2 linked regions of the Homo sapiens genome follow. The protein of the gene in region 2 purifies or fractionates together with the protein of the main gene of each other region. This does not show direct contact. Each region holds a gene or a part of one and is shown on either strand. Other genes may lie near its edges.

The links.
Region 1: the proteins of SMYD3 (region 2) and KDM3B purify together in Homo sapiens (affinity purification with mass spectrometry; 2 studies listed by BioGRID and IntAct, with this or other methods). This does not show direct contact.

What each region holds. Positions count from the first base shown.
Region 1 is NC_000005.10:138,348,628-138,363,665, reverse strand, and holds the start of KDM3B (lysine-specific demethylase 3B), read right to left. Parts: upstream 10,982-15,038; 5' UTR 10,871-10,981; coding exon 10,679-10,870; intron 10,520-10,678; exon of another isoform or gene 8,283-10,519; coding exon of another isoform or gene 8,235-8,282; intron 1-8,234. UniProt on the Homo sapiens protein: Histone demethylase that specifically demethylates 'Lys-9' of histone H3, thereby playing a central role in histone code. Demethylation of Lys residue generates formaldehyde and succinate. May have tumor suppressor activity.
Region 2 is NC_000001.11:245,920,599-245,935,579, reverse strand, and holds part of SMYD3 (histone-lysine N-methyltransferase SMYD3), read left to right. Parts: intron 1-5,642; coding exon 5,643-5,710; intron 5,711-6,027; exon of another isoform or gene 6,028-6,045; coding exon of another isoform or gene 6,046-6,068; intron 6,069-7,546; coding exon 7,547-7,649; intron 7,650-14,981. UniProt on the Homo sapiens protein: Histone methyltransferase. Specifically methylates 'Lys-4' of histone H3, inducing di- and tri-methylation, but not monomethylation. Also methylates 'Lys-5' of histone H4.

The sequences.
Region 1 (15,038 bases), on a different chromosome or scaffold from region 2:
CTGAGGCAGGAGAATCACTTGAACCTGGGATGCGGAGGATGCAGTGAGCCGAGATCACACCACTGCACTCCAGACTGAGAGACAGAGCGAGACTCCGTCTCAAAAAAGAAAAAAAAATTATTAGAATAATTTCTACACTTTGTATAATAGGCATGTATTACTTTAGAATCAGAGAAAGAAAACACCAAATGCTTCAAATCTAAGAAAACAACCCAGATGCAAATCACAAAACTAAGGGCCAGTGTACCTTGGATTGGAGTCCCAAATGTGACTCCAATATCAAGATGAAAAAATTAACAGTGAGTCCGTATCAATAAAAACATGTAAAAGAAAAAATTTAAAGATTATAAAGACAACGGGGCCACGGAGTAGAAATTCCGTAATAAATCGGAAGTGAACATCAGCCTAATAGGGGCTTCAAAATGTTCTACTTTTTTTAGACAGAGTGGTCAGGGAATAGAAGAGAAAAAACAGAAAAATCCGTGTTTCCTGACCTCCATGAATTTACTATCTAGTAGAATAGATAAGCAAGTGTGGAGGATGGAAGACTTTCCCTCTACCTTCTGAGGGTTAGGTGATTGAAATAAACAGTCAGCAGTTTAAGGAAAGAAAAATAATACAAATTTGTTACATGTAAGGGGCATCACAACAAGGAAAAGTAAATACCCAGAACCCAGTGAGACTGAGAAGTTTTCTTATATTTCTATAGAAATTATAGAAATATGTTTTATATAATTATATAATTATCATATAAAATTATAGAAATAATTATTGGGGGGAGAGGGGAGGGATAGCATTAGGAGATATACCTAATGTAAATGAGTTAATGGGTGCAGCACACCAACATGGCACATGTATACATATGTAACAAACCTGCACGTTGTGCACATGTACCCTAAAATTTAAAGTATATAAAAAAGAAATAATTATATAATTATACTATAAAATTATAGAAAAATTATATAATAAAATTATAGAAATAATTATATAACAAAACCATAGAAATAATTATATTTCTATATTTCTTATAGGCAACTTAGGGGAGAGTAAACCACGTACACTATTCACTTAAGATATTTTGTGTGTGTGTGTGTGTGTGTGTGTGTGTGTGTGTATACACATATATGTATATATATATCCTGGGCTCAAGTGATCCTCCCTATAGGTGCACACCACTGCACCCGACTTAATGATTTTTGGGAAAAAAAAATCAATGGGCCCTCAGAAGAACAGGTGACAGCTAAGGCTGTCTTTCTGCATGTGATATAGACCTCCAGTCTCATCTCCTGTGATAGGAATTAATCTTCCCTGGTTCATAAGGTTAGCAGGGAAGGGATTCATGACAATAGAGTTCCTTCTTTTGTTTTTTTTTTCAGGCTGGAGTACAGTGGTGCAATCTTGGCTCACTGCAACCTCTGCCTCCCAGGTTCAAGCCATTCTTGTGCCTCAGCCTCCCGAGTAGCAGGGATTACGTGCGCCACCATGCCCGGCTAATTTTTGTATTTTTTAGTAGAGACAGGGTTTTGTCATGTCGGCCAGACTGGTCTCGAACTCCTGGCCTCAAGTGATCCGCCCACCTCAGCCTCCCAAAGTGCTGGGATTACAGGCGTGAGCCACAGCGCCCGGCCTAGAGTTCCTTTTGGAGGATGTGTCTTTAGGTAGATGAAGTAAGTTCAGAGACAGCCCTCCATCTGCTGCTCCCCAAGTGCCTTCAGTTTGAGATCCAATGCAGCATATTTTGGGGTGGCGTTTCCTGAACTTCTTCACAAGCTATACATCTTGCTACACATATCTATAACAAGAAAAACTACAATAAATATTCCAAAAAGTGGTATCCACAAAGTGCTAAAGGAACAAAGAATAAAAACAACATGCTGGGGAATCAGAAAGGCTTTATAGGGTTTGTAGCTCCTAGGATGCATGGGCCTGAAGGATGAGCAGGCTTTCTTTTCTCTGTATAGGATTTCAATGGATGACAGCATTAAAAGAAAAGTTTAAAGAAGGAACAAAGCAACGGAAGCCAGAAAATACTAGAAAAGTGAAGGATCACCAAAATCAAGGCTGCTTGCTTTAAACAGCCTTTTGGCAACACCCAATTTCCCTTGTCCAATTCTTTGCACATCAAGGACCCTTCTTATAGTAATTTGGTCTCTAGAGCAGAGCAGGAAGGGGCTCTATGCAGATCTCTGGATAGGTATACCTCCCACTGTAAATTAATAACCTTGCATGTGGATTTACAATTCAGTCTCCAGAGTTTGGTTAGAGAGAATCAGTCCCCTAGAGCCTGATTACCTCTGAAGTCATGAAAAAAGGAAAAAAAAAAAAAGGAGTTTCAGCCCTTAGAAAACTGAAGGAGGTCACACTATCTGAATCACTACTAATCAGGCAGGTTTTACCCACCTAGAGATCAAGAGCAAAAGATGATGCTTTCGCACCAGGGGCAGTAGGGATGGTACAGTGGAAAGGGCTTAAAAACCACCAACCTGTCAAAGGCAGTGGAAAACTGAGAAGCATCAACAGGTGTTGCATCCCCCAGGCCTTGTGGAAGCAAAGCCTATATAGAACCCACCCCAGCTGTTGCAAAGAAAATCACAATGGAAAATGCCATGTTTCTTACCCACCATTTTGAGTCTGCTGGTGGAAGGGGAACTAAATAAATAAACTACAAGTTGGAGAAGAGACCCAGGAAGCTGTGTATTTAAAAAAAAGGGAATGAACCCTTGGCAGGTGGGGAGTTAGTGAAGCAAGTCCCTTAGAAACAAATGGAAATTAATGGCCGGGCGTGGTGGCTCACGCCTGTAATCCCAGCACTTTGGGAGGCCAAGGCAGACAGATCACTTGCGGTCAGGAGTTCGAGACCAGCCTGGCCAACATGGTAAAACCCTGTCTCTATTAAAACTACAAAAATTAGCCAGGTGTGGTGGCAGGCACCTGTAATCCGAGTTACTTGCCTGTAATCCCAGCTACTCAAGAGGCTGAGGCAGGAGAATCACTTGAACCCGGGAGGTGGAGGTTGCAGCAAGCCGACAATGTGCCACTGCACTCCAGCCTGGGTGAAAGTGAGACTCCGTCTCAAAAAAAAAAAAAAAAAAAGAAATAGAACTATTAAAATTCACACACACACACACACACACACACACACAATCTTTTTTTAAAAAATCAACTATACAAAGTGCTTGAGTGTCTGAAAAACTCAACCATGGCTCAGTGTTTCAAAAACAGACCTGATGCTGTAAGGGGAGAGTTAAGATGATGAGTGTGCTTAGACGGGCTCACAATTAAACAGTATATAGTCTTAATGTCAAAAAGTACAATGTCATTTTTATTTAAAGTTCTCTAACCATACACAGAATCACAAAAACATATTCTATTTACATTAATAAATAGAGCATAAGTATCAAGGTATCACTCAGAGTTTCAACTTTTGGAATTGTAAGTAATGAAAGGACACAAACATTTTTAAAACCACAAACTCCCATTTCAACTAGGGCTGAAATTCTATGTTTGACCATAGGTAGCGAATTGTACACTGGAAATACGGTAAATATAGTACTATCCTGAACCTGACTATAATTATTACATTATTTAGAAACAAAATAGAGAGGTATTTTAGAGTCTACCTACCCCACCCTGAGACAGAGGAAAGGTTCGGTGGGGAGGTGTAAAAACAGAAGGCAGATACACTTTCACTCCTCCTGGAAGACTCTCAGATAGAAGAAACATAGTACTAGCCTAGACATTGCTACAATTATTACATTATCTCTAATCAAAGGAAAGGAGTATTTTAGAATCCGTCTTTCCTTGAAAGAGAGATGAAAGATTAAGGGATAAAAAAAAATAGGGCGGATATGCTTTCACTTCTCTGGTAACTTCTGGATACATGAGATAACTATGATACACATTCAAAACCAAGTGATACTACATGTACAGCATCATTTAATTACACCTACAGAAAGAAAAGAATGGTTTACCTAAAAAAATTAGTGTTGCCACAACTGGTCACTCAGCAGAAAACAAATTAGGTCCCTCATCTCACTTGCCAATTACAAAAATATTCCAGGCCAAGTGCAGTGGCTCATGCCTGTAATCCAAGCACTTTGGGAGGCCGAGCTGAGTGGATCACTTAAGGCCAGGGGTTTGAAACCAGCCTGGGCAAAACTGTGAGACCCAATCTCTTAAAAAAAAAAAAAAAAAAAAAAAGGTGGGGGGGGCACGGTGGCTCACACCTGTAATCCCAGCACTTTGGGAGGCTGAGATAGGCAGATCAGCTGAGGTCAGGAGTTCAAGACCAGCCTGGACAACATGGCGAAACCCTGTCTCTACTAAAAATACAAACATTAGCCGGGCATGGTGGCACACGCCTGTAATCACAACTACGCAGGAGACTAAGCCAGGAGAATCACTTGAACTCTGGAGGTGGAGGTTGCAGTGAGCCAAGACCGCACCACTGCACTCCAGCCTGGCTGACACAGTAAGACTGTGTCTAAAAAAAAAAAATAAATAAATACACCATGGAATACTATGCAGCCATAAAAAATGATGAGTTCATGTCCTTTGTAGGGACATGGATGAAATTGGAAATCATCATTCTCAGTAAACTATCGCAAGAACAAAAAAACAAACACCGCATATTCTCACTCATAGGTGGGAATTGAACAATGAGAACACATGGACACAGGAAGGGGAACATCACACTCTGAAGACTGTTGTGGGGTAGGGGGAGGGGGGAGGGATAGCTTTAGGAGATATACCTAATGCTAAATGACGAGTTAATGGGTGCAGCACACCAGCATGGCACATGTATACACGTGTAACTAACCTGCACATTGTGCACATATACCCTAAAACTTAAAGTATAATAATAATAAAAAAATAAAAATAAAAATAAATAAATAAATAAATAAAAAGCTGAGAATCATGTTGTGCACCTGTAGTCCCAGCTAATCAGGAAGCTGAGGCAGGAGGACCAACTGAGCCCAGGAATTTGAGGCTGCAGTGAGCTATGACTGCACCACTGTACTCCAGCCTGGATGACAGATAAAACCACTCAAAAAAAAAAAGGCTGGGTGCGGTGGCTCATGACTGTAATCCCAGCAGTTTGGGAGGCCAAGGCGGGTGGATCACCTGAAGTCAGGGGTTCAAGACCAGCCTGGCCAACATGGCGAAACCCCGTCTCTACTAATAAATAAAAAAAAATTAGCTGGGTGTGGTGGTGCACGCCTGTAATCTCAGCTACTGGGACTGGAGGCAGGAGAATCACTTGAATCTGGGAGAGAGAGGTTGCAGTGAGCTGAGATCGCGCCACTGCACTCCAGCCTGGGCAACAGAACAAGACTCCGTCTCAAAAAAAAAAAAAAAAGAAAGAAAGAAAGAAAAAAAATTCCCGCCGAGCGCGGTGGTTCAGGCCTGTAATCCCAGCACTTGGAAGGCCGAGGCAGGCAGATCACCTAAGGTCAGGAGTTCGAGATCAGCCTGGCCAACATGGTGAAACCCCATCTCTACTAAAATTACATGGTGGTGGACGCCTGTAATCCCAACTACTTGCGAGGCTGAGGCAGGAGAATCGCTTGAACCCAGGAGGCAGAGGTTGCAGTGAGCCGAGATCACACCATTACACTCCAGCCTGGGCGACAAGAGTGAAACTCTGTCTCTAAATAAATAAATAAATAAATAATTCCATGCCAGGCACGGTGGCTCACACCTGTAATCCCAGCACTTTGGGAGGCCGAGGTGGGTGGATCACCTGAGGTCAGGAGTTCCAGACCAGCCTGGCCAACATGGCGAAACCTAATCTCATGCATGCCTGTAGTCCCAGCTACTTGGGAGGCTGAGGCAGAAGAATTGGTTGAACCTAGGAAGCAGAGGTTGCAGTGAGCCAATATCGCGCCACTGCACTCCAGCCTGGGCAAGAGTGAGACTCCGTCTCAAAAAAAATAAATAAATAAAAATAAAAAAATAAATTCCAGATGTACCAAAAATCTAAAGGTAAAAATAAACAAAAATGTTGGCTGGGCATGGTGGCTCACGCCTGTAATCCCAACACTTTGGGAGGCCAAGTCAGGCAGATTGCTTGACTGGAGTTCAAGACCTGCCTGGGCAACATGGCAAAACCTATCTCTATACAAAATACAAACATTTGCCAGACGTGGTAGTGTGCATCTGTGGTTCCAGCTACTTGGGAGGCTGAGGCGGAAGGATCACCTGAGCCCAGGGAGGTCGAAGCTGCAGTGTGTTGTGACTGTGTCATTGCACTCCAGCTTGGGTGACAGAGTGAGACCCTGTCTCAAAAAAAAAAAAAATGTTTTTTAAAGTATATTTATATAGGTTCAAGATGGGGATTCCTTCCCAGTCAAGTAATCCTAAACTATTAAGAAAAGTCAGGCCAGGCACAGTGGCTCATGTTTGGAATCTCAGCACTTTGGGAGGCTGAGGCAGGCAACTGCTTGAGCCCAGGAGTTCCAGACCAGCCTGGGCAACATGGCGAAACCCCATCTCTACAACAAATACAAAAACTAGCCAGGCCCGGTGGCGCATGCCTGTAGTCCCTGGGAGGATTGCTTGAGCCCAGCAGTGAGCTGTAATTATGCCCCTGCACTCCAGCCCGGGAGACAGAGCAAGACTCTGTCTCAAAAACAAAACAAACAAAAAGAGGCCCGATAATTCTGATAACATAAAATTCTTATTTTTCTGTATAGCAAAGCAACCCATAAAAAAAGTCAAGAGGCCAGGCCCGGTGGCTCACGCCTGTAATCCCAGCACTTTGGGAGGTCGCGGTGGGCACAGATCACGAGGTCAGGAGATCGAGACCATCCTGGCCAATATGGTGAAACCCCATCTCTACTAAAAATACAAAAAATTACCTGGGCGTGGTGGCACACGCCTGTAGTCCCAACTACTCGGGAGGCTGAGGCAGGAGAATCGCTTGAACCCGGGAGGCAGAGGTTGCAGTGAGCTGAGATGGAGCCACTGCACTCCAGCCTGGGTGACACAGCGAGACTGTGTCTCAAAAAAAAAAAAAAAAAAAAAAAAGTCAAGAGACAAGTGAAACAAAATACAACCCACTACGCAGGTGAAGGAGTTAATATCCATGCACAGAACTTGCAGAGAGTGGTAAGACAACTCCTATTTTTCTCAAATGAGCAAAAGATATCCATAAGTAACAAATAAAAGAAATGAAAAAGCCAGTACACATGGAAAAAAAGGACAAATAGTCATGAAAATTATGGATATTGTTTTTCACCCATCAGATTGGCAAAAATGAGAAAGACTGATGATACCAGTGAAGGCAAGGGTAAAGAGAAACAAGCACCCTGAGTACTGTTGGTGGGAGTAGGAAATGCTATACACCTACTGGAAAATAACCTGGCATTATGTAATAAAATAAAAAATACATATACTTCTTAACCGAACCATTTCAACCCTGGATTGCTAAACTACAGAAATAAAACCTGGATTACATAAAAATATGTATACAAGTATATTAATGACAGCATTGTCTATACTGCCAAAAAAACTTTAGATAACCTGAATGTCCATTAACAGGAGGAATAACTGAATAAATTATGGTACATCCATTCTATGGAATATAAGGTAGTTACCAAAAACGATGAGTAAAATCTGTAAGTATTGATCCCCATGGTATACTGTCAAATGAAAGAAAAAAAAGGCAGGGTGCAAATATTGTGCAGTAGGACACCATTTGCTAAAAAAAGAGGGAACTCTTTGTATACGGTTGAATGTTTTCATGTTTTTTGTACTAGCATTAAGAAAGATGAGCAAAGAGATTGCTGGTTTTTCTTGTGTAAACCTTTGTTTGACATTTTGCAAATTACAAGCTTTGCTTTTATAACCAAAAAAAGGAAAATCCATGGGTTTCTTTTTTTGGTCTGTTTTATCTACAATACCCATATACGTGACGGTCCCAAGGTCTCTGCAACTTACATGAGCCAATAATGATTTAGGAACACAAAGAGGACACCAGATTAGGAAAGAAAAGCCAGAGATAAATGCATACAACCCATAAACTAATTCTAAAAAAATAAAAGGCCCATTTTAAAACACAAATAAAATTACTATTCCACTAGAAAGTGGGGGAAAAGCTGTTTTCATGCCTTGGCTAAACATCTGAGTAATTTGTCAGCATGGCTTCTGCTGGTGAAGATGTCCACCTATGAGAACCTTATCAACAAAACTCTCAATCAACAGGATCCTGACTCCTTTTTTTCACATCTCACCTTAAGGTAGCACTTGGCTTTGTTACTGTTTTCCAAAAAAGGTTTCATTTAATGGATCAGTACTGTATTTTATAGGATATCTGAATCAAAAAGTATTTAGAAAGAGATGTATTCGTGGAATCTAAAATTAAGAAGTGTGTTTTCAATCACTTCAGAAACTCATTCATCCAACCCTCAATTACTCATCCTTAAAAGGGGGCGCCCTGCTAGGCATTACTCAAAACCAAGCATGCCTGAAAACATCTTAAACATAACTGAATGAAAATCTGCCCAATCACAGGCCAGCTGCTTGCAAACTCCACCCTTGAGTACGGGAAGAACACTTTTGATTGGAAGACAGTTGTGTTTACTACCGTGTGTGGTGCAAATTGGAAAGGTCCACATGCCTACGGTCCAAAGGAAATCTCTCTTAATGAGAAAAAAAGAAAACGGCCCATTCTCATCCTACACTGGTCATTGTCATTAATAGAACCTCAACAAAATACCAATTCTTGAACAATTTTGCAAGCTGGTGAAAAAATCTAAAGGCTCTGAGTTTTGGTCTGGCTGTTTTCTCATCTATGTCCCTGGATATACATGTAAGACAAGCATAAATGTATTCTCAAAATACAAACCTGCCTTTGCTTCTACATTCACACAGCCCTATGCAAGACCTCAACACAGCTGTAATGTTCTTTGCTTTAATTTCCAAGAATCACTGCAACTTTTTACTTGGTTTGAGAACCCAGTTCCGTGGGATCAGTGGTAAAATTATTCAGTATTTAGCTTAGTGGGTGTCCAGCAAGGAAGTGAGCTCCAAAATCCTCTGCCCTTAGGGAGCACAGCAAACGACAAAGTGAATGGGGAGCCATTTCAGGTGCAGAGCTCATTAGCAATTCATCTGATGGAGGAAACGAGACGACCACTGCAAGAACCAGAAAAAAATCCCAATGAATAGCTAGGGCAAAGTAGGCCTTCGGTCAAAGTATGCATATAATAGTGGATCTTAAGTATGTTTTGCCTCCAAGGTGGTAGAATGAATCTGAAATGGACACTTCTTTTCCCATCCCAGCCATCTTTTAAAGAAAGCGCAGAGGAATAGAGATCCAAATCCCAGTCTTAATCATCATTCCATCCCCTTAAATTTTTAGTATCTTTTTGCAAATTTGCCCCACTGAGGCCTTATAAATGTCCTAGTAACGTTTCTTATACAGCATGAAGAAAAATCAAAGCAAATGAACCCAAGTAGCAGAAGCAAAGCCTAAGCCATCCACAAAAAAAATCCATAAAGCTTGTATATTAGTGAAAAAGGACAGTCTAACACCGTTGATCAATAGGAAGAAAAATGAACATCGGAAGCCTACAACATTACTTCCAAATCTCACAAACTGCGTTCCCGTTTATATCTGCAAAAGCAAGTTCATCAAGAAAATTTACTTTCTGCTTGCTGATCTATTACATTCCAAAAGACCACCCCCTGCCCCAACACGCACACACACCATTTTTCATAGCCTTATCTCACCAGAGAAGCTAGGGCCCCTATCAAAATGAGGAAATAAAGTGGCTTGCCAAAACTCAAACACTATATTTTACCGCCACATTAACGAGAATAACACATCATGATCCCGAATGCTAGTTAAGTTGTATGACTGAACAACTTTAATCACAAAACACACCAAGGCATTCAAAAAGGGCCAAGCCCAAACACAAAGTTTCAAAACAAAACCTCTCCCAAGGTTGGGGGAGTAGCTGAGCTGGGAGCAAAAAGCACTACCCAGCAGCCCCGTTCGGCCACTAAGAAAGATCTCAAACTTAACAAAAACAGCCACAACTGCAGCTCCTGTCACCCAGAAGCGTTAAGGAAAGGAGAGGAGAGCTCGAGACAGTGCCGAGAGCTGGCCTTTCTGGAGACCGCCAGGCCGAGCCCAGCTCAGATGAGGAAGTAACTGCCAGATAAAAAAGCCCCGACCAGCTCCAACTGCAGCCTCCGTGCCTCCCATAACTGCCCACATTCCCGCCCCACTTGGGGCTCTGGGAGAAAAGGAACAGGGCGCAGGTCTCCTGGGAGAGGCTGGGGACCACAGGTCCGCGTCTTCGAGAGGGCAGCGGCAACACTGGCCGAACTCTGAGGCTCCCGGGAGCTCAAGATTCGAGAGCCTGCTCCGAAGGCGTGTTGGGGGGAACGCCGAGAAAAGGGTCGCCCAGGAGGCGGGGCCTGCTGGCTGCAAGCAGCAGCTCCGGACGCCCTGGCCGCCCCCCGGGGGAAACCGGGGCGCACACCCCGACGCGGAAGCCATGCCGGCAAGCGCTCGGGGTGCGGAGGTGCCGGCGGGGGGCGCTAAGGAGACCCGGGGGCACGGAAATGGGTCACCCCCATCCCACCGCCCCCTCACAAAGGCCCCCGGGGAGGCCGCCCGCAGGCCCCGCAGCCCCGGCCTCGAGTGCCCGACTCGGCCGCCACTCACCGCTAGGTCCTGGGGCACCGCCCCGCTCATGGCCCGCACCGTGCCGGCCCGCCAGGCTCGAGTGCGCAGCGCAGGCCCCGGATCTCCGCTCGCCGCTGCCGCCGCGGGAGCCGAGGCCGAGGCTGAGGCCGCAGTGTCCGCGAACAGCAGCAGCAGCCGCTTGCCCACCGGGGAGGCCGCCGCGTCCGCCATCGCCGGGGCCGGCCTGACCCGCGCTCCCGCCCGCCGCCTCCCACCACCTCCGCCGCCAAGCGCCCGATCCGCCCGCAAGGCCTCCCTCCGCACCACCCGCGGCCGCCGTTCCCCCCCACCCCCCCCAACAGCCACCACCAACCACCGGCGCAGCGCAGCGCCCCCCGTGGCCGGGAGCGGAGCCGCAGCCTGGGCCCCGCACAGCGCCCCCCGCGCTCTGGAGCGGGGCGACAGCTCCTGGCCCCTCGCAGCGCTCCGCCCCAATCTCCCCGGGGCCTGCAGTGCCCCCTGCGGTCTGGAGGGGAATTGCAGGTCCGGCCGGGGTAGGGAAGTGGGCGGGTCCTTCAGCTTCCCCATGGCATCATCCCTGGTCTCAATCTTCCTTCAGGGAGTCGTATATATGAGAGGGCTTTAGCTTGCTCTCCTCGGATACCAAAGACATTTACGGGGTAAGGGGGTGAGGGGCAAGGTACCTAGAGAGTGGATGTTTTGAGCTATTTAGTGTCTCCAATACCCCCATTGATTTCCTATCCTGAAAATATGAGCTCCTACCTGCTGTCTTGTAGGAAATGTTCTCCCCATTGGTCCATGAGACACAATGTCTTCCTTCTCAATGGCCCATAACAGCACCATCCCATTCTATACTGCCAGCACTTCTTAGGTTCCTTTCCAATTGGCCAATGTATTACTTCCATTGGATGTATAATGCCACTCTTTCCACTGACTGAAGGCCAACGTGCCCCCCAACATCTTGGTGTTTTTCCTAAAACCGACCTAACTTCTTCCCCTTCCTAGTCTGCCAATGTTATTAAGTCTACGTGTTTCTCCATTCAACTCTTAGGGGAACTGGAAATAGACCAACAGTAAAGGGGTTCTCTTAGTAGCACTCCATCTTACCATGGAATTAGTGGGGCTGGGGGCAAAGAAAATTCTGTAACTCTTATCTGAATGCATTTAATACAGGTGTGGGAGACTGATAGCTCCTGATTAGAAAAGGAGCCTGCAGAGAAAGTGAGATGCTGAGATTTTTGGCTAGATTGTTACCCACAATAAGCAACAGGAAATTGCCTCAATCATTTAAAGCTGGCAATATCAGGGACTAGCACATTCCATGGTCTCATGGATGCAGAGACTGAGTATACACAAAATGGATACAAAAGATAAAGGGTATAGTAATAACCCATGACTGTTGTTCTAAAAGTGACTTTTTGATTTTCCCTACAGACAGGAAATAGTGGTAGCTGGTTCTTTCTCCAAGGCTTCTGTGCCTACCCCAGCTATCTCCTGTCCATAACCTTGTCTACACCCTTGACCTACTTTTCTTGTAACAAAGGCTTGGGGAGAGGGGTAACCAACTATTGACTTTATACTTTTACTAAAGTATAAAACATATAGGAAAATCATTCTAGAACCAACCCTGTGGAGCACCAAGGAAACATTCCTCCCTCCACTTCTTTTTAACTTCCATCTCCCACAGCCAACCTGAGGCCTGACTCAGAATGTTTTTCTGGGCTGAGAGCCACCTCTTAAAGCACATGGCCCATAAGCTGTAGTTGGTAGGAGGGGAACAAGGGTGAATCCATACAAGATCTATCTGCCTTGCAATTTTTCTATCAAAATTATCTGCTGGGATTTTCTCCCATACAGAGATTTAACTACTGCCCCAATGTCCAAGGCTAGTTTCTCACAGCAGAGAGACAGAAATGTACCTAAGTTCACGGATGGGAAAGGCAAAAGGGAAATGCATTCAACAAATGTGACCAGCACTTTTCATGTGCCAGGAACTTCCCAAAGTGTTGGGGACACAATATTGAATAAAACAAAACTCTTGCCCTCATGGAGTTTACGTTCTTTCCTATATTAACAAGACTTCAGGAATGAAAAATAAAATCACACTTGGCCTCACAGAAAATAGCAGAAAAATCCAACAAAAATAAACTCAAAAGAAAAAAAGGGGGAAACAAAGTCATTTTAGATGTTCAAACTTTACCCCTGCTCAAGCAGTAGGTGAAATGAAACATCAGTTTTAAAGAAAAAAAACCCTGTAATTCTAAGCTTCTTTAACCACATGCCACTGCCCACCACTTCCCCAAAGCCCTTCCTTTGTTTCCAGGGCAGGTGACAACCCTCACTTTTTCTAGGGTGTATGTGCACCCCTGCAAAGATTCCTGCTCCAGGTAGTCAAGTCAGTCCTGTCCTGCACACACTTCATTGGTATTCAATGATGAGTGCCACCAATTTGAAGCAGGAAACCAGGACATAAGCTAAGCAACTTGACTCTTCTTGCTGCCTGGCAAATTAGCACCACAACTGGTAAAGAAAGGCTAAGCCTTAGAGACAGAGGCTCCTGCCTGGATCTCTAAGCAACTACACTTCACCCACACACATTGGAAGAATGTCAACATAGAGAGAAGAAAGGGTGGAACAGAAAGGTCTAAAGAGTGAGCCACATAGCTTCTTTTGGCAAACCAACACTCCCAAAGGAAACATTAGGGAAAATACTGTCTTCTACAACAAAAGAGAAGCTTTGCAGCTAGGATTATTTTCCAAAAGCAGTATTTTTAGGATGGAAAAATTGCCTAGGTCTATGGAATCTGAATTCTGATGACTAAACCTCTATCTCTCCAGGATGTAACATGTGAAAACTTAAGAAAGATCCCTGGCTGTCTCCCACCCTGCCTTCTCCCTACTTCCCAAAGCCTACAAACCAATCTAGACAAGTTCCTGACTGTACCATAAACCATTTCTCAGGGAGCTGGAATGCATTCATACTTGACTTCAACTTGCTGGAAGTGAGAGTGACAGCAGGCAGGAGGAGACAAGTATAACTGCCAGGGAAAGAGAGACCAAACCAGACTGCCAAAAATAACCAAGGCCTTAGCAGAAGCCTGGGCCACAGTATAACATCCTGCCATGGCCGGCAAAGGGCCTAGGGTCCAAATACTGCCCCTTTTTGAAAGGTTGACCCACATCTTAGATGAAGGGGCTGGAACAGTTAGGTGGCCTTCTACCCTGCTTCTTCCTTGTCTTTGTGGGGAAGGGAAGAAGACACTGTAGTACACAAGGTTGCTTGGGAAAATGGATTATTCTAATAAAACTTTATTTTTTCAAACACAGCCACAGAGGCAGAACCTCATGTTTAACACACACAGACTTATGGATTTTTCTTTTAATATAAAACAAAGTTTACGAAAATTTTTTTCCACTTTTTGTATTTGTAATCCCATTAGCACAGGGACTTTGGCAGCAGGTGGGAGTGAAGGGCAGCTGAGCTGCCACTGGGCAGTCACTGGGCACAGGAGGAGAGCACCAGCCTGGGGAGTGGCTTCACTCACACACACAGGGATACTCACCTACTGGCCAACCACACTACACACACAGCACAGATGCAGACATTGACCCAGTGTCAGCCACATGCCCTGGAGGTGTGCTCCACTCTGGGTAAGCCCAATATGTGAAAATTCAAATAGTCAAAACAGCTAAAGTGGAGGGAGGTTGCTTGCTTTACAAAAAGAAGCAATCATAGGCTGCTTTTAAATGGTCAGCAGTCCAAATGCATTGAAAAATAGCATTTGGTTTACACAGAACTGTTGGAACAGATCTACTGTGTAAAGCAAAATGAACCAATTCTTGAAAAGTGTTCCAGGGCCACAGGTTCTTAGATTGGGAAGCAAGATGACAGTTCTGACTAGCTTAGTTTTCCAGACTGAAAGTAATGGAATTAAAATAATGATAACTGTAGACCTTCTCCCCTAAGGATGGTGCCCTGGGGCTTTGGGGAAACCAGGATGGAGGCAGAATCACTGCCTCACTTCTTCAGCTTAGGGCCTACAGAAACTCACTGGCATTGCCAGTAACCTGTTGGAAGCTGGCACAGCCAATCTACAGCAGAGAGCCCTGGGATGAGGATGCCCCAGGAGGAAAAGAAATTGGCACCAGGGAAATTATGGCCTGAAGAGGGAGAAGAGCCAGGGGAGGAATGAAACCATAGATGGGCAACTCCTGGGCTCACAGTTTCCCTGGATTCTCTAGAGGGCCTCTCTCAGGCCCCTAGAGACCTGGTAGCCTAGTGGTAACTAGCCAGGAGATAGGGAGGAGCCTCTGAGGGCCAGAGGCTTAAGAAGACATAGCCACCTCCTCTCTGGAGTGGAGACGAGGAGGCTGAAGC
Region 2 (14,981 bases):
GAGCACGGATATCTCTTATTTTAGTTAGTTGAGTACAGAAATGGGATTGCTTGATTATATGGCAGTTCTATTTTGAGGTTTTCGAGTAACTTCTGTACAGTTTTTCATAATGGCTGGACTAATGTAGACTCCACCAGTGTGCAGGAATTCCCTTGTCTCCACATCCTCACCAAGGTTTATCTTTCATCTTTTTGATGAAACAGGCATGAGGTGATACCTCATTGTGATTTTATTTTGTATTTTCCTAATGATTGAGCATTTGGTGATATTGAGCATTTTCTCATGAATCTTTTGACCATTTATATGTCTTCTTTTGAGAAATGTCTACTCAAATCCTTTGCCCATTTTAAAATTGGGTTGTTTGTTTTCTTGATATTGTGTTGCTTGAGTTTCTTATATATTTTAGGTATTAACCTCTTATCCGTTGTATGGTTTATAAATACTTTCTCCCACTCTGTGGGTTGTCTCTTTCTTGACCATTTCCTGTGCTATGCAGAAGCTTTTTAGTTTGATGCAACCCCATTTGTCTACATTGTGCTTTGGAGTCATATCTCCTACTTGCTTCTGTCTTTAATCAGGGGTCCATTAGGTTTGCAAATGAAATAACGTGACTAAGAAACAATGGAAAACTATAATGTCAAACTGTCGCAAGACTAGCAGTGTAGTGAAGATGCAGCTTAGTGACTAAGTCGTGAGCATGGGCCTTTGTCCCCGCAACCTTACAGCATGCTCCCTGGTAAAACTTGAGACCCTCCAGCAACTTCCTGGCAAAGGGAAATGTAGTTGGTCATTGTTTCTATTATGGATTTTTTTTTTAATTGAAATTGAAACAGATGCCGAAATCACCTGTACTCTCGTAAACCTTCCGGTAACACTTTGTGGATTCTGGGATTTGCGAATCATCATTTAAGAAGTATAGCCTCTCCTCTCCTGAGCTGACCTCCGTCGCCAGCCTGGTCCCCTCCCGCTGTTCTGGTTTGGAGATTTCAAACCCTTTAACTATGTGACCAAAAGAGGCAATGGGACAGGCAAGGACTGAATTGGGTCCTGAAGGATGGATAAATATTTGCCATACAGATAAGGAGGGATTGGGAGATACAATTTTTAATCTCTTAAGGTTTATGAGAAGATTCTGGAAAAAAATCTGTACTTAATAACCTGTCATATTCTGTGGGTAGAGAAAAATATACCCTGATTAAAATTCTTATTGTGCTTTTAAAGTTAGAGAAATATTAGTTCTAGGAGTCGGGGTGCCGGGGGGCAGAGGCAGTTATGTAGTGTAAAAGCTTCTGCTTCTGGTTTTCGTACCTGCCAACTCTTCCTCCTTCCAGTTTTTCTGTCCAGGGTTTAATAAAACTAAGTACATTAAACTCCGTTTTGAAAACTCATATTTAGTCCCTCTAGTTAGTAAACTTGATGTGCCTAAAGTCTTCTGTGCCAGACACTGTACTGAACATTTTAGACAGAAAAGTTTTAAAGGAGATGCAGATGGTCTTGGAGGAAACCTCTGTATAGTTGTGTTCAGAAACTGAATCCCCTTCTTTTTAAATGTGTTTTAAAATTTGTATATATATTGGGAAATTGAAAGTATTATTTGAAATAGGCTGTGTAGAATTCAGTAATTGGGGGAGGGGGCTGGGAAGTGGCTGGGTTCTTGTCTTATGGTGTAGAATTACTCAGCTCTGATTGGTTGTGAGTTTGCTTATGGCTGTTCTGATTTTTACCGTTGCAAGATAATGGCTTAGTAGTGATTTTCTCTTGTGTTGCAAATATCTCAGTTTAACTGCTGCTACAATACAAAGCCTTTAGTCCTAAGAATTTCAGGAAAAATATGAAATTTGAATACATGGTAATACACTCATTTTGTAAGGTATTCACTTTGTGTGTTGGTATTGATTTTGCTATTTGTGTCTAATCTACCGGGGAATTGCTAACCTCAGGACACAAATGTCAGATTCTGGACCTAGACTCTGAACCAAATGACATAAGAATTTGGTTCACAGAACATTTTAAGTTTCACTGTAGTTGTTTTTATAAAATACAGAGGCTCAATGACAACTCACTAGATTTTTGTCATCTAGAAAAACTATAATATTATATATGAAGGCTTTCAATTAGTTTAAAGGAAAAATTACAGAAAGTAAATATAACTTTGCATTCAATAATAAAACAATTTAAATATGTGTTTTAGTTTTAAGACATGGTAAAAATTTCTAAAGTAATACTCAAGCTTAATTTTTAGAAAGAATTCATTAACCCAGTTGCATTTATTTTTTATTGAAGTAGTACCATTAATATTTTTTTCTAAATGTTATCTTTTTGTGAAGTAAGCATTCATTAATTGTTTTAACCTGTGCAATTCCCTAAGAAAACTGTTTTCACAAAGACAGTACTTTGAAAAATGTTTAAACTTTTATTTCTGGGCTTTATTTCCATTCTTTTAATTCTTGATATAAAGAGCAATTCCTTTCAAATTATTGAGCACACATGGACATATTATCTACCTATTCTTGCACTAAAAAAAAGCCAGAGAGCTTCTGCATATCCACTGTTGCTATCAGTTGTGTATGTCAAAAATATTTCCTGTCAGGTTGTTAATTGAGATAGTGCTGGATGGAGCCAGCATTTTAAATAAAAGTGAGAGTAGGCAAAAAACTAAACCTTCTGTTTACTAGCCCAGAAAGACTAACACGTAACACTCAGACTAATATAGATGAAATCCAGGAGCTATGGCTCACTCCTGTAATCTCAGCATTTTGGGAAGCCGAGACGGGAGGACCACTTGAGGCCAGGAGTTCAAGGTCAGCCAGGGCAATATAGCAAGACTCCTGTCTCTGCAAAAAGTTTTAAAAAATTAGTCAGAGGTGGTGGTGCCAGCCTGTAGTCCCAGTTACCCCGGAGGCTCTGAGGGTGGATTACTTGAGCTCCGGAGTTCGAGGCTGCAGTGAGCCATGATCGCACCACTGCACTCCAGCCTGGGTGACAGAGTGAGACCTTGTCTCTAAGAAAAGGAAATAGATTTATTAGTGTCTTCTGTTTGCCAGGCTTTGAGCCAGGTACAGGACTAGAGTGATGAATGAAACACTGTGTCTGCCCTCCCAAGTATTTTACGATCCAGTTGTGTATGATGGCAAGTAAATGGGTAAATAATGATCCAGTATGATAAATGCTGCTAAAGAGGGAAGTCATCTTAGGAAATCAGGAAGAGTTTCCCAGTGGAAGAGACAAGCAAGCTGACATTTCCTCTTGTTAGCTTTTCCTTCTTAAACATTCCATCAGAATCCATGAAATAAACCGATGGAAAAAAACTGATAAAGATTTTTCCTATTTTGAAAAAACCGTTAATTTGCTTCATAGTCCAGGAAAAAACCATGCTGGTTTGATTCAGAAGTTAACAGATCAGATGTGTTTGACCTGGTTTTTTTGTTGGTGGATTATTTCAACTAAAGTTCTCATTATACTTTAAAATATTTGTTAAAACTTGTATCCCTTCCCAAATTATACACATTTAAAAATGTTTAAAATTTCAAAAATTAAACGTAGGACTTTCTGTCTTATATTTTTACCATCCAATTTATACATAAGTATATATAGACAATGTACTGTTGCTGCTTAATGCAAAATAGTTGTCCTTAAAGCAATTTAGCATTTGTTTACAAATATATATGTATAATTTTGCTCCTGATTTGAAACTGCAATTTTATATATTTAGAGGGAAAAAAGCCAAATCATGCTAGAGTGCACTAGATTTCATGTAAGAGCTGTTTGGAGCAGTGGAAGAGTCTCAGAGGACTCAGTGTGTTTTCATACTTCGTGTTCTTTCATGTAAACCTGATTTGAGAAATTCGTCATCACTTTTTCCTTTACAGAAACTTTATAACAAGTCAGCATCCATTTGTAGTCTCTGGTTCATCTCAAATGTTTAGCCTCTTCTCCTTTTTTTGTTTTTTGATGGCCTTTGTCATGTTTCATCCTAAATTTATATCTCTAGGCGCAACTCCTCTTGTGAACTCCAATTGTTCATTCTTAGTCTTGGCTTGGATTTCAAATTTAACTTAACCAAAACAGAACTGTTGGACTTGCTCTCAACTCCCTGTAACCAAATTTGTTCCTGTTAAATTCTTCCTCATCTTAATAAATGGTAGCTATGATCTTCCACTTGCTTCGGCCAAAAACTCGAGCATTATCCTGACTCCTTTCATTCCCCACAAGCCGTCCCGCAGTAAGTAAGGCCTGTTGGCTGTGCTACCCAGTTCTCCTGCTACCGACATCCGAGTCACCATTGTCTATCACCTGGGCTATAGCAGTGACTTCCTAACCATTTTCTCCACTTCCATTCACCTTTTTATAGCCCATTCTCTACACAACAGCCAGAATGATCCTTTTAAAGCAGAAGTCAGACTCCTTCATGCCTTGGCTCAAAATCCAGTGGCTTTCTATCTTCTTCAGAGCAAAACCCAAATATGGCAGTAGGGCCGTAAGTGATCCCACTCCGTCTTTGAGCTCGTGTTTTGCCCCCTACTTTCTTGCTCCGCTTTGGTCACACTAGCCTCTTTGCTGTTCCTCTGTTACCACGGGCATTCCTAGCGTAGGGCCTTCGCACTTGCTCTTTCTCCTGATATGAGCCTTTATCGCCTATAAATACACACGTTCATTTCAGCAGTCCCTTCAGGTCATTGCTTAAATGTCAACTCATCCTAAAGAGCTTTCTTGACAACTTTTTTTCTCTGTAAGGACCTTGTTTCTCTCCTTGGCATTTATCTACATGTGACAGTTTTCTATCATTGGGTTTTTTAAAAAATCTGTGTATTCAACTAGAACTTGAGCTCCACGGAGGCAGGAACTTTTGTTTTGTTTTTCTTCACTGCTCTTTTCCTCGCACCTGTCTGAAGCAGTGATTTTAGCCAGAATCTAGATTTCCTGATTCTGGTCCAGTGCTCTTTCCATGGTTCTGTGTGACCTCATACATCAACCTTATTTCACAAACGAGGTTTTTAAGTTCCTTGAGCACAGTCGATTGTGTTTTTTACTGCTTCTGCTCCGTCCCTGCATAAGACAGGACTGTGTCATGTACCCAGTGATGGACTCCTGGTAAATACCATGGCTTGACTAAATGACCTCCAGTGCTCCCTGTGGTCTTCACCAACACGCATCAGACGACAGGCTCAGTCACGGGATACTTCGCTTTCTGTAGGAGTAAGAGACAAGTTGCTATCACTGAACAGATACACAGTGGCATTTGGAAACTGCATGCAGTTTGAAAAAATCGTGATACAGCAGGAGTCTAGTTTTCAATAAATAGCTTATTCATATTCTGGATTTTGAACAGTTCATGTAACTGTAACTTTGGGGTAGTGGATAATGAGACTGAAATTAATGGTTCCTCTGCTGGTTTCCGTCTGTTTTTTTTTTTTTTCTCCCAGGAGGTTGGTATTTCTGCACTTAACCACCTGATGTTTTTAGGGGGAGTATATCCCAGATAAATTCTGTTGTAAGTCAAAGAGCATCCATGATTGGCTTGGCTCTTTCTTAAGCAACTACTAAGATGCTCCTACATTTGGGTTTGAACGTTTTTTATTCTCTTGGCTATGAAGTTTCTTAAGTGACTCTAGTAATACTGATGGTTCCCCTTGTGTTTACAGGTGATCTGCAACTCTTTCACCATCTGTAATGCGGAGATGCAGGAAGTTGGTGTTGGCCTATATCCCAGGTATGGTGTATGGTACTTCATGTACTGGAAGACACACTTTCATTCCCACCCAAATCCCCAGCCCTTTGGAGGTAGTTAGAAAGGCAGTTGCTGCAGCTTGTTCAAGAGCCAAGCTTAAAACTTAGCAATAAATTACAAAAAAATGGAAAATGTTAAGTTGAAAGAAAACAGTTTTATAACCCCACATTATATGCTGTGATATTAACAAAGGGGCAGATCTCAGAACTAAACTCTTGTTCTCAGGGGGACTTTGGGTGAAGAAGTTGAGGACGGTGGGTGCTAATTAACCATCGGGCTGATTTTTGGTTATTCCCCAGTTTCCTGAGCTGCAGCACATGCTGATTTCACCGGACTTGCCGTACGTATCAGTTGGGTTCATGTTGTCTTTCGAGTTGGCACACTCTGAGCCCTTTCACTCAAGGAGGCAAGAAAACTCTCAGGCTTTGGCCCCTGAATGCTCTCTCCAGCTATTGCTGAGCTGACTCTTACCACTGAGCTATGAAACCGTCTCTCCACAAGCACTATAGGCACACCCAGTTTCATTTTGTTTTTATGCCATAAGAGTCCAAATACAAATTTAGACTTTCTAATAATTGTGAATCTAAGAATTCAGCCTTTTTTCTTATTTCTCACAATTGTCATTAACTGTAGGTCAGGTCTACTGGTAGGTGGTTCTCAAAAGGCAGTAACATAGGATGATTCAAAGCATGGGCTCTGCGTTCAGGCCACCTGGTCCAAATTCCATCACCACTTACTAGCTGTATGTCCTTGAGCAAGTCATTTAATTTCTGTGCATCAGTCTCTTTACCTGTAAATGATCCTCATAAGATTGTTGTGAGGATTAAATGTGATGAACATGCTCAAGTGCAAGAAAGTGTTTCTACATAGTAAGTGCTCATTCTAATTATTACCAATTCCTGATAGCAGCTTAAATCCATTTTGTTTCCCAGATGGTAAGAAATGTCCCTCCAAGGTAATAAAATGACTGGACCATGGCCCAGGATGCATCAGGATGTAGGTGGCAAAATAACGTCAGCTCTCTATTTAAGAGCAAATAGTCCTAATTATTTTTCAGTGTGGATGTTCTAGCAAAGGCGGCCATTTCTCCAAAGGAGCTCAACAAATGAGATCCTATGGGAGAGGTCAGTGGTATCTTGGCTGCTGCATCCCATTATGTCTGAGTATTTTTTTTTTTTGAGATGGAGTCTCACTCTGTCACCCAGGCTGGAGTGCAGTGGTGCGATCTCGGCTCACTGCAACCTCCGCCTCCTGGGTTCAAGCGATTCTCCTGCCTCCACCTCCTGAGTAGCTAGGACTACAGGCATGTGCCACCACACCCAGCTAATTTTTTTGTATTTTTAGTAGGGACAGGGTTTCACCATGCTGATCAGGCTGGTCTCAAACTGCTGGCCTCAAATGATCCACCCACCTCGGCTTCCTAAAGTCCTAGGATTACAGGCGTGAGCCACCACACCCAGCTGTCTAAGTATTTCTTTCTGAGTCAGTTTCTTTCTGACCTTCGTGTTGGGTTGCCTTATTGACTGTTATCTAATCAGTCAACTATGCCCCAATCCCCAAAAAGGACTCAGGAAATTTTTTTATTATTAAATGACGGAATTCCCTAGTTAGCCTGCATCTTGAGGAGAATTGCACTTCGTGGGAGGTGTGCTAGTGACATTTCTGTGAATGCATCCCCGAGTACTGAACCCCTGGCATCCTGTCAACCCTACCTGCTGCTGCCCCCCAAAGGAAGGTGTATTTTACCCACTGCATTTGTTAAATTTAGTTGACTCTACCTGCTGAGCTGTGACAGTCTTCCCCCCTTTTTTTTTCCAGTATCTCTTTGCTCAATCACAGCTGTGACCCCAACTGTTCGATTGTGTTCAATGGGCCCCACCTCTTACTGCGAGCAGTCCGAGACATCGAGGTGGGAGAGGAGGTAAGGAAACTCATGCTTCCCAGCCTGGCCTTCTTTCCTATCAAAGACCCTCTCAGCTCGGCCCGTCCCTAAAACTGATTGTGCCTGAGGGGACAACTTTTCATTGTCCTTCTGCCAGTGAGAGTATTTGTAGTTCAGTCACCTCTCCCCAGCAACCTATCCTTTCTTCTCCCAAATTACAAATGGGCTAATTTTTTAGGGGAGAGGTCACCATATTTCTGGATGATGACAGTTCCTGTCCTGTGTGTGAGAGAGAGAGGAGTTTGTGTATGACAGAGGGTGTGTGTTTTATGCACACACAGGGAATTCATGAAATCTCCTCAGTGGCAACAGCTGAGCAGCCTCTCATATCCTTCCGTGGGCAGGGGGGGGCATCCCAGCTTGTGAGTGGGATCCCCAAGACTTCTTCACTCGGAAGGCCACTGGCTACATTGAAGGTAATGATGCATGTTAACTTTGTGCTAGTAAAGCAAACAGCTTATACTGTCTCAGGCTGACATTGGGACTTGACAAACCCATCAGCATCTCTGGGTGATCATTTCAGCAAAGATGCAAAGGGAATAGAGGACAGGGAGGATGACCTCCAGCAGTGAACTGGCCTTGACCCCTCCAGTTTGACAGACTGTCCAGCCAGCCTCTTTTGGTGCAGAACCTTCTTACAAGACAGCTGCAAACGGGCTGCTCCAGGGCTCTGAACCTAAGCTTGCACTGGTTTGCACAGTGACTACCCATGCTGAGTTCTGAGTTACAGATATTTCTACTTTCCAGAACCCCGTTTCCTTCTCCTTTCCAATTTGCTAAAGTGGATATTTATTGCAAGGAAAACAGTACTGAAAGCTTTTATTGCATTTATGCAGCACTCAGCCAATAAAACCTCAACTCAGAGGTACCATATTTTATGTAGACAGGGATTTGGCTTTGACAAGATTCTCCCCAAACTGATTTTCAGTGGAAGGAGCCACTTCTTATACAACTACTCGCTAAATTTCCAGATTTTAGGACCAGTGTATGAAATATACTGGGATAGATGTCAGTGAGATGGACAATGTAGTTTTTTCTCTTTTTTTTCTGGGGCCGCAAAGGACTTCAAGGCAGGTAAGAGATGAAACCGCTATCTATTTTCAGCAATATTCATTTGGGGGCTGAAGAGCGGCTGCTGCTGTTGTCGATGATGACGATGTTTTTGCAAATTAAAAAACAAACCAAGTAACTTGACAAAAGCAATTAGAGTTGGTTGGAATTTTCAGAAACAACAAAGAAAGTTTCTTCTATTTTCCTAGGCTCGGCTGCCAGTCATTCTCCCGTGGTTGCTTTTCATTTAGTTGAATAAGACACCTTGTCTTTAGGTGCTGCTTTCACTTTTTCACATCTTTCTCTTTCCATCTCTGGAGCAACAAGCAAATCCTCCCTCTTGCCAAATACGAGACATTTCCACTCAGTGTAAAGCCCTTCAGACTCAGATATTTTTCCCTGTGGTACTTAGCAAGGCATCTTCTCAACAAAAAGAAGGTTCTCCCCACAAGTCCTTCATATATACCAGTTTAAGAGAATAAACATTTCTCCATTCCATTTTGTAGGTCTTGCTGAACAGTGTTTCCCCTGATTCATCATCGTTTCTGTCCACTGTGTCTCTTTGTCTTAATGTTATATGCCCTTCGAGGCTGTTTGTTATGATTTAAACATGTCCCCCAGATTCCATCTGTTGAAAACTTTATCCCCAAATTCTTGCTGATGCTTTGTGGAGGTGGAGTCTTTGGGAAGTAATCCAGATTAGATAAGGTTATCAGGGTGGGAACCCCATGATGAGATTGGTGGCTTTATAAGAAGAGGACACTCCTGCTGCCACCTCATGTGACGCCCTCTGCCATGTTATCAGGCAGCAAGAAGGCCCTCCCCAGATGCCGGTGCCATGCTTTTGGCATCATGCTTCCCAGACTCCAGAACTGTGAGAAATTTATTTATAAATTACCCAGTCTGTGGTATTCTGTTAAAACAGCAGAAAATGGACTAAGATACCCTTTCAATCACATCTCTTGTGTAACTCTTTCCCTGATTTCCCATATTAGAAGAAGTTCTTTTCCTTTGAGTTCTCGCTTATAGTGGTTATTAATACATTTTTGGCACATATTATGGCTGTTTTGGAGACCTCTCTATTTAGAGCTTTATGAGGACAGACAATCGTGTCTTATTTCTGTATCTCTTAGCACTTAGCTTTGCATCCAGGAGGCATTTGATAACTTTTTGTTGAATCGACTCTCTATTATATTGAGCTTACTCTAATGACCGGCAGTATTTCTTGTGGGGACACTATTGCCATTTTGAATGGGACAGTTCTTCATCGTGTGGGATTGTTGCATCATTGGAGAAGACTTGTGTCCTTGGCGTGTGCTTAACTAATGCCTGTAGCCATCCCCCAACAACTAAAATATATCCTATGCCTTTCAAACTGACCCCTTGGAGCAGAGGTAGGGGAGAGGGAGAGCCATGAGAAAAGACAGTTTGAGGCATTGATTAAGCAGGGTAATTCCTATTTATTGTACAAATATTAGCTTTAAATTAAGGAATAAATCTAGACATTTTGTGTTCCCAACATACAAAAATGGTAAATACATGAGGTCGTGGATAACCTAAATACCATCACTTGATCATTACACATCGTATGCAGGTAGCAAAATAGTACCTGGACCCCATAAATATGTATAAATATTATGTATTAATTTTTTGAAAGTTAAAATTCCTTGGGAAAAAATTTTAGACATTTTGGTAATTTCCTATCATGAACTTTGCATTTGGCTTTAGTGCTCATTAGGGCACCCACAGTTTTAATATGAGCTATTTGGGATCTGAGTGTCAGAATATGGGATTCACAATGGAAGACTCAACAGCAACTGAGGCAGAAGTTCCTCAATCAACATTTGTTGAGTAAATTAATGAGACTTCTTAAAGATAAAATAAGAGCTGGAATAGGGCTGGGCACCGTGGCTCATGCCTGTAATCTCAGCACTTTGGGAGGCTAAGGGAGGTGGATCACTTGAGGTCAGGAGTTTGCATCCAGCCTGGCCGACATGGTGAAACCCCGTCTCTACTAAAAATACAAAAAATTAGCCAGGTGTGGTGGCGCACACCTGTAATCCCAGCTACTGAGGAGGCTGAGGCAGGAGAATCGCTTAAACCCAGGAGGCGCAGGTTGCGGTGAGCCAAGATCGCACCATTGCACTCCAGCCTGGGCGACAGAGTGAAACTCCATCTCAGAAAAAAAAAAAAAAAAAAAAAAAGCTGGAATAGAGTCTCAGACATTTACAAATGACTGGCAGTCCTCAGTGGTGTCCCATGGCTCCTGAAAGGAAGGGAATATGAAAGCCAGTCTACTGCCAGTTTAAGATGGGAGCATTTCAAACCTCACACAAGGAGAGCTGGAAAATTGCACAAGGTCTGTGATAACAGAAGTTGCCATGGAAATTTCTCACCCCATGTTTCTCTCTATATAAATCCATCCTTTGGACCCTCTTTGGACAGTTTCCTTGCAAACCAGCAACATTTATAATACTTTGCTATTTAAGGCTCTCCATTGTAATGCTGAGTTATTGGGTCTTTTTTTTTTATTTGACTTTGGATTTTTGTCTCCTCATTCAGCCGCCTCCTACAGAGAGAGATGTGTAATATCATTTAAGTCATGGCTCACTTGACTGGATTGCTGATGGCTACCTTTTCAAAATTATCTTAAATATGAGATTCATTTGTTCTGATAGTTTTATAAAACATGGATCAGGGAGGAAAGCTGGGTAGGCCAAAGCAGTCTTATGGTAGTTCCTGGTTAAAATAACTTGTAGCTGTTACAAATAATGCCATTGGCTGCCAGCATTCTCTGGCGCCATATCAACTGGGAGAAATGTGATTGACACAAGTTGAATGCATTAGTATCCCTAATGTCAGTCTTAATCTGATGTCTTTTGGGATTAAGACAGTCTGTTTCTTCTGTTAGTCATCTTATTTGCTAAACCATTAAACGAATTCACTGCATGTTTACTGGATGTCAGGAGTTGGTAGCAGTTTTAGAAACCTTCTCTAATACAAAGATTATTAAGACCCAGCCCTGACTTCAAGAGTTCAAGGTATAGTTGAGGAAACTGACAGAGAACAGAAAACAATAATAGAATTAAGATGCACAGTGGTGTAAATGGGCACAGGCTTACAGCAGCTCAGAGCAGGAGCACTCGAGTGATTAGTAAGGGGAGGGAGTGGAGAGTGGTTAAGGAATGCTTCCAGAGGACTGACTCCTAGACTCTGAAAGGATCCATGGAGTTAGAGTTGGATGAGGCTGGAAAAGGCATTGTAGACATAGACACAGAGGCCAGGGACAGAATGGTGAGTTCAAGGAGTAGGAAGCAGTTCTCATCAATAGACGACGAAAGAATTTAGATGTGACCCGAATTTGAGGGAAGATGTAGGGATCAGACTGACAAACCCCATGGGAGCCTTATCACAGACCTTGGTTTAGCTGAAGGTTTCATAACATTGGCTGGTCTATAGGAGGCGCCCAGTAAATATTTGTGTAAGGGAGAAGGACGAGCAGCGGGACATGATTGAAGGGTTTCAGCAAAGGAACTGCGTGGCCAGATTTTCTTGTTTTTTTTTTCCTGCATGTTTACAAATGTTACTGTTTTTTATTGTATGTACTATACATAAAACACTTGAAGAAAACAATTTTTAAAACCCCACCCAATTCTAACCCCTGAGTTAGATTTGGGATATCACAAACGAAACATTTTACTCAGTGTACATTCAATTTTACCTCAGTCACTGTTGCTGTAGTGTGAGTTTTTCTCAACTCGTTGAACCATATGATTGAAACGTGATGTTTCCTTTGCCTTTCATTCACTTTTTGTATATACGACCATGGCTATGATGATAGGGAATATTTATAGGGTGATTCAATTTAGGAAGCAATAGATGAAGCCTAATAGGTAAAAACAAAAAACAAAACCCAAGGACTACAAAATTGAGTAAGACCTAAGTAGTCTGTACCATCTTTGGAATCTTAGAAAACTCAGATAATGTTACATATTCATTTTTTTTATTTTATGGAAGAAAATGTAAGGTTTAAACTGGGAAATGATTTGTTCAGTGCTACACTTACTACTACGCAGTGTGGAGGGGGTTAGTAATAAAGCTTCATTCTCAGGATTGAAGTAACAAATTATTTACCTAGGACAGTGCCCAGCACATGATGCTTACTACATAGTGATTTTCTTCTTCCATTTGTGATTAGAGTTTCCTGAAGGGAAAAGTAGAGCTCAAATGGTGAGTGTCCAAAAAAAAAATATGACATTAGAGATTTCTCATAAATTGTGGAAACATATTTAGAGAATCTATCAAAACTATAGTAAATCTCATCTTACGTATCAAAGCAGAATAATTGGTCTTTGGTGGAGGTGGTCTGGCTGATGTTTGGACTCGGCAAGAAAGATTGCTACAACTGTTGAATAACATTTGGTTTGTGTATAGAAGTGTTGGTCCATGATGACATCTACACAGATTATTTTCCATTCTTAAATTAACATTTTCTATAGGCAGTCTTTGTTCTAATACATGCTCCTCTGAAATTGAAGCTGAAAGTGTTATGACCAGTTTCACTTTAAATGAAGGTACCTTTAAGTCTGAAATGAGCCGGTGCTTTCAGGTTTAGGCTGTTGAATACAAATACATACAAGTTTGATTTTTGTTTTTGGCTTAAGATGATAAAATTACTTTTAACGGGGTTTTATTAAATTATATTCAATAAATAACTAAATTGTGATTTCACAGTTAAATTCATTATAAAAGTCCCTGCCCCATTCTTAAGAATGGATAAGTGTAAAAGAAATGTAATTTCATTTACCTTTTGAATTAAGCTAAAAGAATATTTAGTAACCTAATTGTGATTTTTAAAAAAATAATTTCAACTTTTATTTTAGATTCAGGGGGCACATGTGCAGCTGTGTTGCATGGGTATATTGCATGATAGTGAGCTTTGGGGTGTGATGAATCCCATCACCCTGGTAGTGAACATGGTACCCAACAGTTTTTCACCCCTTGCCCTACCTCCCTCTCTAGTAGTGCCAGTGTCTGTCATTGCCATCTTTATGTCCATGAGTACCCAGTGTTTAGTTCCCACTTATAAGTGAGAACATTGGGTGTTTGGTTCGATAGATTCTCTAAATATTTGTTTCCACAATTTATGAGAAATCTGTAATTGCTGGGTTTGGTTTTCTGTTTCTGCATTGATTTGCTTAGGAGAATGGCCACTAGCTGCATTCATGTTGCCACAAAGGACATGATGTCATTCTTTTTTATGGCTGCATACTATTCCATGGTATGTGTATATATATATATATATATATACACCACATTTTTTAGCTCACTGTTGATGGGCACTTAGGTTGATTCTATTTCTTTGCTATTGTGAATAGTACTGTGATGAACACGTGAGTGCATGTGTGTTTTTGGTAGAATGACTTATTTTCTTTGGGTATATACCCAGTAATGGGATTGTTGGCTCAAATGGTAGTTCTGAGCTCCTCTCCAAACTGCTTTCAACAGTGGGTTAACCAATTTACATTCCCACCAATAGTGTATAAGTGTTCCCTTTTCTCCACAGCTTCACCAACATTTGTTATTTTTGGACTTTTTAGTAATAGCCATTCTGACTGGTGTAAGATGGTTTCTCGTTGTGGTTTTGATTTGCATTTCTCTGATTAGTGATGTGGAGCATTTAAAACCATGTTTGTTGGCTGCTGGTATGTCTTCTTTTCAAATGTGTCTGCTCATGTCTTTGGCCCACTTTTTACTTGGGTTATTTGCTTATTGAATTGCTTAAGTTCCTTATAGATTCTGGGTATTAGACCTTTGTCAGATGCATAGTTTGTGAATATTTTCTCCTATTCTGTAGGTCGTTTGTTTACTTTGTTGATAGTTTCTCTTGCTGTGCAGAAACTCTTTAGTTTAGGTCCCACTTGTCAATTTTTGTTTTTGTTGCAATTGCTGTTGAAGACTTAGTCATATGTTCTTTCCGAAAGCTGACGTCCAGAATGGTGTTTCTTAGGTTTTCTTCTAGGGTGCATAAAGTCTGTGGTCTTACATTTAAATTTTTAATCTTTGTATTAATTTTTATATATGGTACAAGGTAGGTGTCTTCTGCATATGGCTAGCCAGCCGTCCTAGCACCGTTTATTGAACAGGATGTCCTTTGCTCATTGCTTATTTTTGTATGACCACTTTTCTATGTGTAGGCAAGGTTGGGAGAATGAGCGTCGGGGTGATGTAATAATCCAGGGAAGAGATAACAGTGGTAGC